Linked DNA regions of Homo sapiens. The protein of the gene in region 2 interacts with the protein of the main gene of each other region in a pairwise test. Each region holds a gene or a part of one and is shown on either strand. Other genes may lie near its edges.

The links. The genes of interacting proteins can lie anywhere in the genome.
Region 1: the proteins of RTN3 (region 2) and SACM1L interact in binary tests that used the Homo sapiens proteins (3 or more experiments, as listed by UniProt).

What each region holds. Positions count from the first base shown.
Region 1 is NC_000003.12:45,692,381-45,699,408, forward strand, and holds part of SACM1L (phosphatidylinositol-3-phosphatase SAC1), read left to right. Parts: intron 1-7,028.
Region 2 is NC_000011.10:63,712,494-63,719,521, forward strand, and holds part of RTN3 (reticulon-3), read left to right. Parts: intron 1-6,208; coding exon 6,209-7,028. UniProt on the Homo sapiens protein: May be involved in membrane trafficking in the early secretory pathway. Inhibits BACE1 activity and amyloid precursor protein processing. May induce caspase-8 cascade and apoptosis.

The sequences.
Region 1 (7,028 bases), on a different chromosome or scaffold from region 2:
TGGTGTGAGCTCAGCTCACTGCAGCCTCAGCCTCCCAGGCTCAAGTGATCCTCTCACCTCAGCCCCCAAAGCATCTGGGACTACAGGTGCACATCACCATGTCTGGCTGATTTTTTCTGTTTTTCAGTTTCGCCATGTTGCTGAAACTTGAACTCCTCGTCTTAAGTGATCCATGCACCCTGGCCTCCCAAAGTGCTGGAATTACTGGCATGAGCCACCATGCCTGGCCCAAAGAGAGTTTAGATGAAGTACTTAGTGTACCTCATAGGTACCTTCTTTGAGAAATGTTTTCTTTCCATGTCTTTTCCTTCACTGAGTTCTGGTAACAGTTTTTAAAGCCAAAAATGAAAAATTATTGTAACAGGGTTAGACACCAAATGTTTACATGATTTATGTATTCTGTCTCTTAGGATCAGTTTACAGTGCATTTACTTTCTCATGGACAAGAGGATGGAAAGCTAGAATGGTCAATCCATAGTACTGTTTGAACCACTCATTTTGTCACTTAGAAATGAAATCATTATGTACACCGTTATGTGACTCTTACTGACAGAGATACATTCTGAGAAATATGTTAGAAATATGTTAGGCAACTTCTTTGTACAAACATCAGAGTATAATTACACAAACCTAGATGGTACAGCCTACTACACACCTAGGCTATATGGAATAGCCAGTTGTTCCTAGGCTACAAACCTGTACAGCAGGTTACTGTACTGAATACTGTAGGCAGTTGCAACACAATGGTAAAGATTTGTGTATGTATACATACATAAACAAGAAAAGGTACAGTAAATATACGGTATTATAAGCTTATAGGACCACCATCATATGTGTAGTCTGTCGTTGACCAAAGCATTGTTACATGGCACATGGCTGTACTTTGTTTCTCCAACCAGTTTACACCTTAACATTTTCTTCTCTAGTCCTCCTCAGTACCTAACATAGAGCCTTGTGCAGAGCAGCTCCTCAGTGAATCAACTGAGTAAATGAAAGGAACTTTCCAGTATAGACCACGTACTAGCACTGCAAAAAGAACACAGTCTAGGGTAATTTGGAATGTATCGTTTTGAAGAAACACAGCTTAAAAGTCATTTCATGTATATTGTCTTCCCAGTGTCTCTGTGAGGTCATAGGTTGATAGGTATCCTGTCATTGTTGAAAACAGTCTCATAATTGCCCTTGGCCACAAAGTCAGATCATACAGCCAAGCCATGGTAGAGCTAGCCTTGGAATACGGCTGGTCCAGAGTCCAGTGATCTTTCCATTTCATTGCATTATCCATATGACCTTTTTTTCTCTTACCAGATTGCTCTCGCATTAGTCCTCAGACATGCCAGGTATTGAAATGAGTCACTTACAACCAAATATAGTTGACATGTCCATATTAATTTCCATATGTTTAATGTGGAAAACAGAATATTGATTTGCTCAGAATTTAAAATTCATACTTTTTAAACTTCCAGGCAGTTCTAAATATCCTGTTAGGCTCCATTTTTCTTTTTAAGCCATTTGTATAGGCATGGATAATGTCAGACAGTGATAAATTTGAAATTGCAAAATAATTAGACTGGAAATGTAATTTTTAAGAAGCTTATCTATCCCTGTATATAAGCTAAAATACCTTGGCAGTTCGGCGTAGGTGTCACATTTCCTTTGCAGGGAAATGACATCAAATGTGGTTTGGGCACTTCTTAGGCCCCTCAGACCTCAAGCTCATAATAACTTTCTAAAAGGTTCAGTGGAAAGTTAGAGGTGCAAAATTATTGGATACATTTAAAGCATTTTTTCTTCTTTTTTTTTCTTTTTCTTTTAAAAGGTCAGTTGAAACTAGGTGTAAGGCAGGGAATCCTTTAGTTACTGCATCAGGCTGCAGCATGCCTCTGAAGAGTACTGTTTCCTCAGGAAATTGCCATTTTTAAAAGAGTCTCATAACTGTGAGGTCATCAGTCAGGGCAGATATGATCCAACCTTGAAAACAGATGTAACCTAAGCTACCTTGTGATACAGACACATATAATCTGTTCAATATAATGAACATTCATATTATTCACAGAAGTCTCCCGGTGGAGGGAAGGGTGTAGGGCAGCTCAGATTATTCTCATGAGTTTTAGCACAGACAATATGGGGTTTGTATCCAAAGCATTAGTTGGCTGGGAGTTCAGGCTAGTTCAGGCTTACCTAGGCTCACGTGGCTAGCCTAGGTTAGTGCTAGGCTACATCAAATGACTTGGTATGCTTGTTTTAAGTGCGTATTCCAGGGCCCCACATTAGGCCTACTGAGTGAAAATCTCTGGGGATGAGCGGTGGAAATCTGCAAGTTTAACTAGCTATCCTGGTAGTTTTTATGCACTCTGAAATATTTTAGGGCTGGGCATACATAGCTGAGTTAGGACCAGAACATGCTGGTAGAAGAGAATTCTTTGGAAGATATGGGGCTCTGGTAGATTGTGCTGTGGATTAGAGCTTCAGATTAGGTGGAATTTGGACCTAGTCCTGTGAAGAAGTCTGGTTGAGAGAATGGGTTTTAGGGCATTCAGGGAATAGGATATAGGTGGGAACACAGAGTTTTGAGAAAGAGGATAGCATTAGAATGAGTCTTTCTAGAAACACCAACTGGTTTGGAATTGGGTTGTGCCCCTGGGGAGTCTGTGATGAACTTGAGCTATAGGAGAGGCAACCAGGGAGGGCTCAGTGAGGAGATACCCAAAGGGAGGATGAATGGGGGAGGTAGGAGCACCTTCTGCCTATGAGTGTAGTATGTGCAGGGGATCCTTCTTTACTAAGTTGTTTTCTTTTTGCTCACCAAACCTAGTAAAGTGTTGTGCCTCTGTCTTTTCAACCAGAGATGTATTAAATTTGATCATTAAGACCTTGATTTAATTCTTTTTTTTTTTTGAGATGGGGTCTCACTCTGTTGCCCAGGCTGGAGTGCAGTGGCGCAGTCTCGGCTCACCACAACCACCACCTCCCAGGTTCAAGTGATTCTTGTGCCTCAGCCTCCCTTGTAGCTGGGACTACAGGCATGCACCACCAGGCCCGGCTAATTTTTGTATTGTTAGTAGAGACAGAGTTTCACCATGTTGGCCAGGCTGGTCTTGATCTCCTGACCTCAAGTGATCCACCTGCCTCGGCCTCCCAAAGTGTTGGGATTACAGGCATGAGCCACTGCACCCAGCCAAATTCTTTACGTAAGATTTTTGAGGGAATATGTTCTTGCTACAGTTTTATGACATATCACTGTGGCTCCTATGCAAAATAGTGGTTTCATTATTTTTAAAAATTGTGGTAAAATAAAACATTAAATTTACCATCTCAACCATTTTTAAGTATACAGTTCAGGGGCAATAAGCACATTCATGTTGTACAACCGTTATCACCATCCATCACCAGAACCGTTTTCATCTTGCAAAAATAAACTCTGTACCCATTAAACAACTCCCCATTTCTGTATCCTCCCAGCCCCTGGCAACCACCGTTCTACTTTCTGTCTCTATAAATTTGACTTCTCTAGATGCCTCATGAAGTGGCAGTATTTGTCCTTTTATGACTGGTTTATTTCACTTAGCATAATGTCCTTAAGGTTCATCCATTGTGTAGCATGTGTCAGAATTTCCTTTTTTTTTTTTTTTTTTGAGATGGAGTCTCGCTCTGTTGCCTATGCTGGAGTACAGTGGTGCGATCTCGGCCCACTGCAACCTCTGCCTCCTGGGTTCAAGCAATTCTCCTGCCTTAGCCTCCTAAGTAGCTGGGATTTCAGGTGCCTGCCACCACGCCCAGCTACTGTTTTGTATTTTTAGTAGAGACAAGGTTTCACTGCATTTGCCAGGATGGTCTCCATCTCCTGACCTCGTGATCCGCCTGCCTCGTCCTCCCTGAGTGTTGGGATTCCAGGCCTGAGCCACTGTGCCTGGCCCAGAATTTCCTTTCTAAGGCTGAATAATATTCCATTATATGTATGTACCACATTTCGTTTGTTCATTTGTTAATAGACACATAGGTGGCTTCCACCTTTTTGGCTATTGTGAGTAATGCCAGTATGAATGTGAGTATACAAATACCTTTTTGAAACCCTACTTTCAGTTATTTTGAGTATATACCCGGAAGTGGAATTGTTGGGTCATATGGGAATTCTATTTTTAATTTTTAATGGGCCACCATACTGTTTTCCCATAGTGGCTGCACCGTTTTACATTCCCACCCACAAAGCACCAGGATTCCAGTGTCTCCGCATCCTAGCCAACACTCGTTATTTTCTATCCTGGGTTTGTTTTTTTTTTCCTTCTAGATAATAGCCATTTTAATGGGTATGAGGTTGGTAAGTAGTAATGTTTTTGTAGTGGGCCAGTTTTACTCATTGATTTGACAGGATTTTAAAGAGATCAGTTGTCTGAAATAAGACGTGAATGTTACATGAGAGATAAATGTTTTCAGACACTAGAAAATCGCAATGCCAACACTGAAAGAAAATAAAAATATTTGATGTTAATATTATAATTAAAGATATTGCTTTTCTTAAAATTTAACAAGACTAATTTTTTAAAAAACACTCTTAAGAGCTGTTGAATCCCAGGTGACTATAAGATTAAATGCATTTGTATTAAGTGTAATACCAGAACTGCCTTTGTTGCATTTAGCTTTTAGTCCCAGTTCCACTTCTGGGATACTCAAAATAATTAAAAGTAAGGTCTCAAAGAGGGATTTGTATACCCCTGTTCATAGCAGCATTATTCACAACAGTCAAAAAGGAGGAAGCAACCTAAGTGTTGATTCTTTCTTTTTTTTTTATTTCAACATTTTTTGTAGAGATGAGATCTCGCTGTGTTGACCAGGCTGGTCTCAAACTCCTGGCCTCAAGATCCTCCTGCTTTGTTTTTCTTTTCTTTTCCTTTTTTTTTTTTTTTTTTTTTTTTTAAGACAGGCTCTTGCTCTGTTGCCCAGGCTGGAGTGTAGTGGTGCGATCTTGGCTCAGAGCAGCCTCTGCCTCCCAGGTTGAAGTGATCCTCCGACCTCAGCCTCCTGAATAGCTGAGGCCACAGGTGCATACCACCACACCTGGCTAATTTTTGCATTTTTTGTAGAAACGGGGTTTTGCCATGTTGCCCAGGCTGGTCTCAAACTCCTGGGCTCAAGCAGTCCTCCTGCCTCAGCCTCCCAAAGTGCTAGGATTACAGGCATGAGCACTGTATCCAACCACTTTTTCTTTTTTATGCCATGCTTGGACAGTAATCCTTAAAAGCAAAATGACGAACTGAATGAAGGTAGTCAAAATAGGAGCAATTATTATACAAGTATTATGCTATTTTGATATATCTTCCATAGTATGTGTCTTATTAATGGGAACCAGAACTCTGGGTAGGTATGGGATCCCCTTGTCTTGACAGATATTTGGTAGGATTCTTGTTCAGTTAGAGTTAATAGTGAATTGGAGGCTAATCACCTCACCAGATAGTTTATATAGGACCAGAACCCTTTTTAGTATACAGTATTACTTTGAACCTTAGAGATCTGTTATCAACAGTATAGATAATGACCAAATAATCTTCTTGGATCGAATCTTGTCTTCCGAAATCCATTTCATAAAATAAGTAATATGATAGCTTGTTTGGTAAAGATTTAAACACAAAAATAGCAATAAAACAATACACACCAGGAAAAATTATACCACTGAATGTTTACTTAATTGTTTTTGACGGTTTAAATGCTAGAGAGTTAAAGTTAATTTCACTGGCTTTTGAAATGAAGCCCAGGAAGCATAAAACATAGAATAAAATTTATTACATAAAACAATTATGCTTCAGATCAGTATTAAGACCAATACAAAAGTGGTGGGAAATGAGAGGAAGAGAACAGTAAGGGCATATATGTAGGTGCCGTGAGTTAGGATGATACCTGCTGTTATGGTTAACAGAATTGTGAGTCATTACTTCTAATGAGCATCCCTAGAAATGTTGATTCCCTGGCAGTCACTGTTCACATTTTCATTGCTCCAATTCTTAAGCCTAGAGATACCACTTTCAGTGACATTATCAGAATAGCCTGATGGCAGCATCAGCAATTTAGATTCCAACAGCATCTCTCAGAGAGAGAAGATCAAGCAAAGGCCTCAGGACTTTTGAGCGAGACATCTCTACCTTGATCCATAATTACTCTTATTTGTATACTTTGTTATAATACTTTTTTTTTTGAGACAAAGTCTCGCTCTTGTGCCCCAGGCTGGAGTGCGATGGCGCAATCTCTGCTCACTGCAACCTCCGCCTCCCAGGTTCAAGCGATTCTCCTGCCTCAGCCTCCTGAGTAGCTGGGATTACAGGCGCCTGCCACCATGCCTGGCTAATTTTTGTATTTTTAGTAGAGATAGGGTTTCACCATGTTGGCCAGGCTGGTCTTGACTGAACTCCTAACTTCACGGAGTCTTGCTCTGTCACCAGCCTAGAGTGCAGTGGCGTGATCTCAGCTCACTGCAACCTCCACCTCCTGGGTTCAAGCAAGCGATTCCCCTGTCTCAGCCTCCCGAGTAGCTGGGACTACAGGCACGTGCCACCGCACCCAGCTAATTTTTTTGTTTGTATTTTAGTAGAGACGGGTTTCACCATGTTGGCCAGGATGGTCTCGATCTCCTGACCTTGTGATCCACCCGCCTCGGCCTCCCAAAGTGCTGGGATTTTGCATGAGCCTCTGCGCCTGGCCTGTAATACAGTTTTTAAATCTTATTTTTATTTCAATCTTATGTATACGGTTTAAAAGTAAGTAGTATACAAAGCTTATAATAACAGAGGCATCTACTTTTTTAAGCAACTTCTGGTATTTTACTCCATATCTAGCGCACCAGCATGGCACATGTATACATATGTAACTAACCTGCACAATGTGCACATGTACCCTAAAACTTAAAGTATAATTAAAATAAATAAATAAATAAAAAAATAATAGTAGCAGTAATGGTAAAAATAAAAAAATAAAAAAATGCTCATATTAGGCTGGGCTCTGGTTTATGTAGCTGTGGTTCAAATGAAGCCTCATGGTGT
Region 2 (7,028 bases):
TTTTTTTTTTGAGATGGAGTCTCACATTGTTGCCTGGGCTAGAGTGCAGTGGTGTGATCTTGGCTCACCGCAATTTCCACCTCCTGGGTTCAAGCGATTCTCCTGCCTCAGTCTCCCGAGTAGCTGGGATTATAGGCATGCGCCACCACACTCGGCTAATTTTTTTGTATTTTTAGTAGAGATGGGGTTCTCCATGTTGATCCGGCTGGTCTTGAACTCCTGACCTCGTGATCAGGACCAGCTCGGCCCCCAAAGTGCTGGGATTACAGGCGTGAGCCACCGTGCCTGGCCGACTTCGAATTTTTTAATAAGAATTTTTTGGCCGGGCGCAATGGCTCACACTTGTAATCCCAGCACTTGGAGAGGCCGAGGCAGGCGAATCACCTGAGGTTGGGAGTTCCAGACCAGCCTAACCAACGTGGAGAAACTCCGTCTCTACTAAAAATACAAAATTAGCTAGGCCTGGTGGCGCATGCCTGTAATCCCAGCTACTCCGGAGGCTGAGGCAGGAGAATCGCTTGAACCCAGGAGGCAGAGGTTGCGGTGAGCCAAGGTCACACCATTGCACTCCAGCCTGGGCAAAAAGAGTGAAATTCCATCTCTCAAAAATATAAAAGAATTTTTTATTTGGGTCTAAAAATTTAGAATTTAGAATATGACTACCAACTTAATTTCTTAGTCTTTGTTTCAGATAATATATCTCAGTGGAGTATTTAGAGTTTAAGAAGATGAGTAATCATGGAGCTGAGTACTTGATAAGTTTGAGAACATGTTCATGATCATTGTGGGGATATGACATTTTTTACCTCTTACCATATATCGATTCTCACCCACCCCCCATTTTTTGAAACAAGGTCTTGCTTTGTCACCCAGGGTGGAGTGCATGGCTCACTGCAGCCTCGACCTCCTGGGCTCAAGCAGTCCTCCCACTTCAGCCTCCCAAGTAGTCAGGACCACAGGTGTATGCCACCATGACTGGCTAATTGTTTAATTTTTTTGTAGAGATGGGGTCGCACTGTGTTGCCCAGGCTGGTCTCGAACTCCTGGGCTCAAGCTGTCTCCCTGCCTTGGCTTCTCAAAGTGCTAGGATTACAGGCATGAGCCACCACACTCAGCTGATTCCCTTTTTAGTAAATCTACTAGATCTATGACTTTATTTGTTAATAATTAGAGTAGCACCATGTTTTTAAGTGATTAGAACTCTTGAAAATGAATATCCACACTAAATTCCATTATAGCAAAGAACTAATTTAGAAAATGTTCATAATGAGAGTTTTGATGGCGATTTGTTTTGAGTAGTGTTGAAAGGCTCTTAGAGTGCATGTGAAGGGATGAATCTTTTGAGAAAAGAAAGATAGTAGACATTTTCTGAGACATAAAATAATCCAGATTTATTCCACCAGACAGCTTTACAGTGTATAGTATTTTAAGAGCTAACTGCCTTCAGATTCACTGGACTTTTCTGTCCTTTTGCCAGGTACTGACTTGGGCAACAGCAGTGACTACAAGTGCCATACTGACCAATTGGAAGAGTCTTTGCTTATCGGAGCTGTTCTAAAAGGCTTATTAGTTTTTGGTCTTCATTCTATTTAATGTTTTCATGCCTTTATAAACTTTTTACTTCCAGCCCAATTTTTCCCATTGTCTTGGTACAGGTCAGCTGTGTCCAAGTTTGTTAGGGTTTCAGCTAGCCAAAAATGGTATTTTCATTTGCTGAAATTCTAAACAAAATAATTAAAGTTAAAGCACAGATGATGATGCTACCTTATTTTTCTACATGTGGGAAAGCTTGATTGATAGTAATGATTAGCGCCTGCATCTCACAATCACTGAGAAATGAATGCAGCACTGAGCTCTGTTTGCCCTCTAAGCTTGTCCCCAGAAAAAACAAGATATACCCTAAATAGTAAGTTATAATATTTTTATTAGGGAACATTATTAGAGTTTTTTTTTAATATATCTCGTAGCCATGTCATATTAATCTTTTTTCTTTTTTCCTTTTTTTCATTTTTCTCTTTTCTCTTCTCTTCTCTTCTCTTTTCTCTTTCTCACTCTGTCACCCAAGCTGGAGTGCAGTGGCATGACCATGGCTCACTGCAGCCTTGACCTCCCAGACTCAAGCAATCCTCCCACTCCAGCCTCCCAAGTGACTGGGACTACAGGCACGTGCCACCATGCACGGCTAATTTTTCTATTTTTTGTAGGGGCAGGATCTCAGCATGTTGCCCAGGCTGATCTTGACCTCTTGGACTCAAGCAATTTTCCCTCCTGTGCCTCCCAAAGTTCTAAGATACAGGCATGAGCCACCACACCCAGCCTAGAGAATCCTTAATGTTTGAAGTCTGTCAGGCTATCATGGTGCTCAGCAGAGGATGTGTTAGTATTCTGAGAATAGGACTTCTAACTTTAGTTTTACCTGAGATTATTCTACACCTAACTTGAAACTTTTGGAGTATTAAAGGTTCAAAGAAGTTAAGAGAAAAGCAAAGCTTGATAAACTGACCAGTTTGTGTCCTGCTAAAGCATAGACAGTTTTACCATGCTCTTCCCAGTGACATGAATATTCTTTGGTTAGCATTCAATTTGGTTGCTTTCTTTTTTGTTTAATCAGGCACTGTCACCACTGTATTATTGTCATCATTTTGCTTATTGATTTTGCTTATTGTCTGCCTTCCCCTCTGTGTTGTAAGCTCCATAAAGGCAAGAAATTTTTTCTGTTTTATTCACTGCTTTAAGCCCAGTTTCTAAAACAGTGTCTGACACGTGGTAGGCACTCAATAAATACCTGTTGAATTATTACTAATTCATTTTGTAGACTTTCATCTGTAAGATGACAGATCTGAATCATCTGAAATCTCCATCTCCATAAAACATATAAGCTGGCTGGGTGCAGTGGCTCATGCCTGTAATCCTAGTACTTTGTGAGGCTGAGGCGAGCAGATTGCTTGAGCTCAGGAGTTCGAGACCAGCCTGCGCAACGTGGTGAAACCAGCTCTCTACTAAAAATACAAAAAATTAGCCAGGTGCGGTGGTGCACGCCTGTAATCCCAGCTACTTCGGAGGCTGAGTCAGGAAAATCGCTTCAATCTGGGGGGCGGAGGTTGCAGTGAGCCGAGATTGCACCACTGCACTCCAGCCTGGGCAACAGAACTAGACTCTGTCTAAAAAAAACACACAAAAAACACACAAAAAAACATATAAGCTGAACCTCCCCTGTGGGGTGGAGTCAGTTTGACTCACCTCAGAGTTGTTTGAAGAGAGAGGTTCCCAAACAGTTTTACCATAACCTTAGTTCACTGAATGTTTTGTGGTAGAAACACTGACTAGTAAGTTCAGTAACAATGCATGGCTCAGATTGTGGAATATTTCTGATTTAAATGTAATCTGTAGTACTTCACACTTCAGATTTTTGAACCTTTTAACCTACAATACTGGGCTTCATTTCTGTTATGCCCTAATCTAGTCATGCTGAATATCCATACTGTATAATGGTAGATGCAAACCATGTTTACTAAATTAGAACTACATATGAATTACAGTTTACTTCAAGTGTTTTGTTTTGGTAATATAGCTTTGCCACCAAGCTTTTACAGTTTTCCTTGAATGTACAAAGACTTTTTATTCTAATAACCAGATTACAGTTATACTATTTCTAAAGCTCAGCTCTTATTACATCAAGTTTCAGTGATGTGTTGAAGTAGGGGAACTTTATATGGCATTTCAAAACATTTTCATAATACTGGAATTTTATTTATTGTAAAATATTTTTGTCTTTAATAAAATAATTTTGAATGAAGTCATAATTTTGCTTTTATCTGGTATTTGGATGTTTACATGAAAAAGGGAACATAAGCTGAATAAAGGTAATCCCAAAAGAACTTCTCTGTCACATTTTCCCAGTTACTCATTCATGCTCAAGGCATTGCTGTCCTGAGCCTACTTAGGTCTCAGCTGACCAAGCTGAATCTTTGATTCACTTATTTGGGGCTATTTATTTAAGACCCACTTTGTCCCAGCTCCAAAGATACAACAGTATGCAAGAAAGACAGCGCCCAGGGTGGGCGTGGTGGCTCATGCCTATAATCCCAGCACTTCAGGAGGCCGAGGTGGGCAGGTTGCTTGAGCCCAGTAGTTTGAGACCAACCTGGCAATGTAGTGAGGCACCAGGTCTGTAGAAAGTTTAAAAATCAGGCCAGGCGCGGTGGCTCATGCGTGTATTCCCAGCTCTTTGGGAGGCCGAGGCAGGCGGATCACGGGGTCAGGAGATCGAGACCATTCTGGCTAACACGGTGAAACCCCGTCTCTACTAAAAATACAAAAATAAAATTAGCCAGGCGTGGCGGCGGGTGCCTGTAGTCCCAACTGCTTGGGAGACTGAGGCAGGAGAATGGCGCGAACCCGGGAGGCGGAGCTTGCAGTGAGCAGAGATCGCGCCACTACACTCCAGCCTGGGCGACAGAGCAAGACTCCGTCTCAAAAAAAAAACAAAAAAAAAAAAAAAAGAAAAGAAAGTTTAAAAATTAGCCAGGTGTGGTGGCATGTGCCTGTGGTCCCAGCTACTTGGGAGGCTGAGGTGGGAGGATAGCTTGAGGCCAGGAGGTCAAGGCTGCAGTGAGCCACAATTGTACCACTGGCACTCCAGCCTGGAGGACAGAGGGAGACCCTCTCTCAAATACAAACAAACAAATAAATGAAGTAAGAAAGCACCAGCCCTTGGGATATTTGTTTTGATCCTTTTCCCCAGTAAAAATTTGTTAGAGTGGGAAGTTAGAAAACAGTGTGGTAGATTGATGGCTACTATGGTATTAACTGATAAGACTTAACGTATTACTTTGAGAAGGATATTTTCTATTTTAAAAGTAATTCTGGAGTTAACTCTGTCTTTTTTTTTTTTTTTTTTTTTTTTTTTGAGACAGTTTCACTCTTGTTGCCCAGGCTGGGGTGCGATGGCGTGACCTCAGCTCACTGCCATCAATGTCTGCCTCCTGGGTTCAAAGGATTCTCCTGCCTCAGCCTCCCGAGTAGCTGGAATTACAGGTGCCTGCCACCACGCCCGGCTAATTTTTTTGTATCTTTAGTAGAGATGAGGTTTCACCATTTTGGTCAGGCTGGTCTCGAACTCCTGACCTCAGGTGAGCCACTGCACCCAGCCAAGTTAACTCTGTCTTAACCAAAGAAATCAATTTGCACAGTACAATATTGATTTAAATGACAAGTTAGTACAAGAGATTTTGGAGGGGCCAGGCGTAGCGGCTCACACCTGTAATCCCAGCACTTTGGGAGGCCAAGGCGGGTGGATCACTTGAGGTCAGGAGTTAAGAGACCAGCCTGGCCAACATGGTGAAACCCCATCTCTTCTAAAAATACAAAAATTAGCTGGGCTTGATGGTGCCTGCCTGTAATCCCAGCTACTTGAGAGGCTGAGGCAGGAGAATGGCTTGAACCTGGGAGGTGGAGGTTGCAGTGAGCTGAGATTGCGCCATTGCACTTCAGCCTGGGCAACAAGAAAAAGACTCCGTATCAAAAAAAAAAAAAAAAGATTTTGGAGGGGGTCCACCTTTTTCAGTACCCTTTAGTTTAGAACATCACAGCTATTTATTTGTACATGGGACAGATTCTCCCTGTGGATAGAATAGAATAATTCTAGTCTCATTTTTCAGATTCAGGAAGGGCCCATTGCATCTCCTAAAAATCAAAAAAGTCTGGCCACTAGTTTTTTTCCTTTTCAGATTGTGAGACTAACAGATTTATAGAGGCAGTCTGTGCTCTGAATTGTTCAGCTTACAGATTGAAGTCTATCAACCCTTTATAGTATCAGGTTATTTGTTTTGTATAAATTATTTTGCTTTTGTTGATTAGCTCTATCAAAGAATAAAAAACCTCCCAAGATTTCTCAATCTTACCGCCCTTCTTTATGCTTTCTCTGTACAATGGAAAAGTAGACCAAAAGTATTTGTCATGAAAATTTTTTATCATTTGCAGTTTGTGGCATGATATGGCTTTTCTGTTTCACTGTTGGCAGTTTTATGCATGTCCTGTAGGATAACTTGATCGTTTTGTTACATATTTATGTGTGTATATATACATCCTGTGTGTGTATATATATATTTATGTAATTTAAAAAATAAAAAGCATGCTGCTTGGCTTGGCTAGCTAATGTGTAATTGTACCTGGTAAACAATTTTTTTCTTTGAAATTCTGATCATAGAGGGATTGAGCTCTCTTTGCTCTGATGAGCCATCTTCAGAAATTATGACTTCTTCCTTTCTTTCATCTTCTGAAATACATAACACTGGCCTTACAATACTACATGGAGAAAAAAGCCATGTGTTAGGGAGCCAGCCTATTTTAGCCAAAGAAGGAAAAGACCACTTGGATCTTCTAGATATGAAAAAGATGGAAAAGCCTCAGGGGACCAGCAACAACGTATCAGACTCTTCAGTTTCTCTTGCAGCAGGAGTTCATTGTGACCGTCCTTCTATTCCAGCCAGTTTCCCAGAGCATCCTGCTTTTCTCTCAAAGAAAATTGGTCAAGTGGAAGAGCAAATAGATAAAGAGACCAAGAACCCAAATGGGGTATCAAGTAGGGAGGCTAAAACTGCATTGGATGCTGATGACAGATTCACTTTGCTGACAGCCCAGAAACCACCTACTGAGTACTCTAAGGTAGAAGGCATTTATACATATTCTTTGTCTCCATCCAAAGTTTCAGGAGATGATGTTATTGAAAAGGATTCCCCTGAATCACCATTTGAAGTAATTATTGACAAAGCAGCATTTGACAAAGAATTTAAAGACTCATATAAGGAGAGCACAGATGATTTTGGTAGCTGGTCTGTGCACACTGATAAAGAATCATCCGAAGACATTTCAGAGACTAATGACAAGCTTTTTCCACTGAGAAATAAAGAGGCAGGACGTTACCCAATGTCTGCATTGCTCAGTAGGCAGTTTTCACACACAAATGCAGCACTGGAAGAGGTGTCCAGATGCGTGAATGATATGCATAACTTTACTAACGAAATACT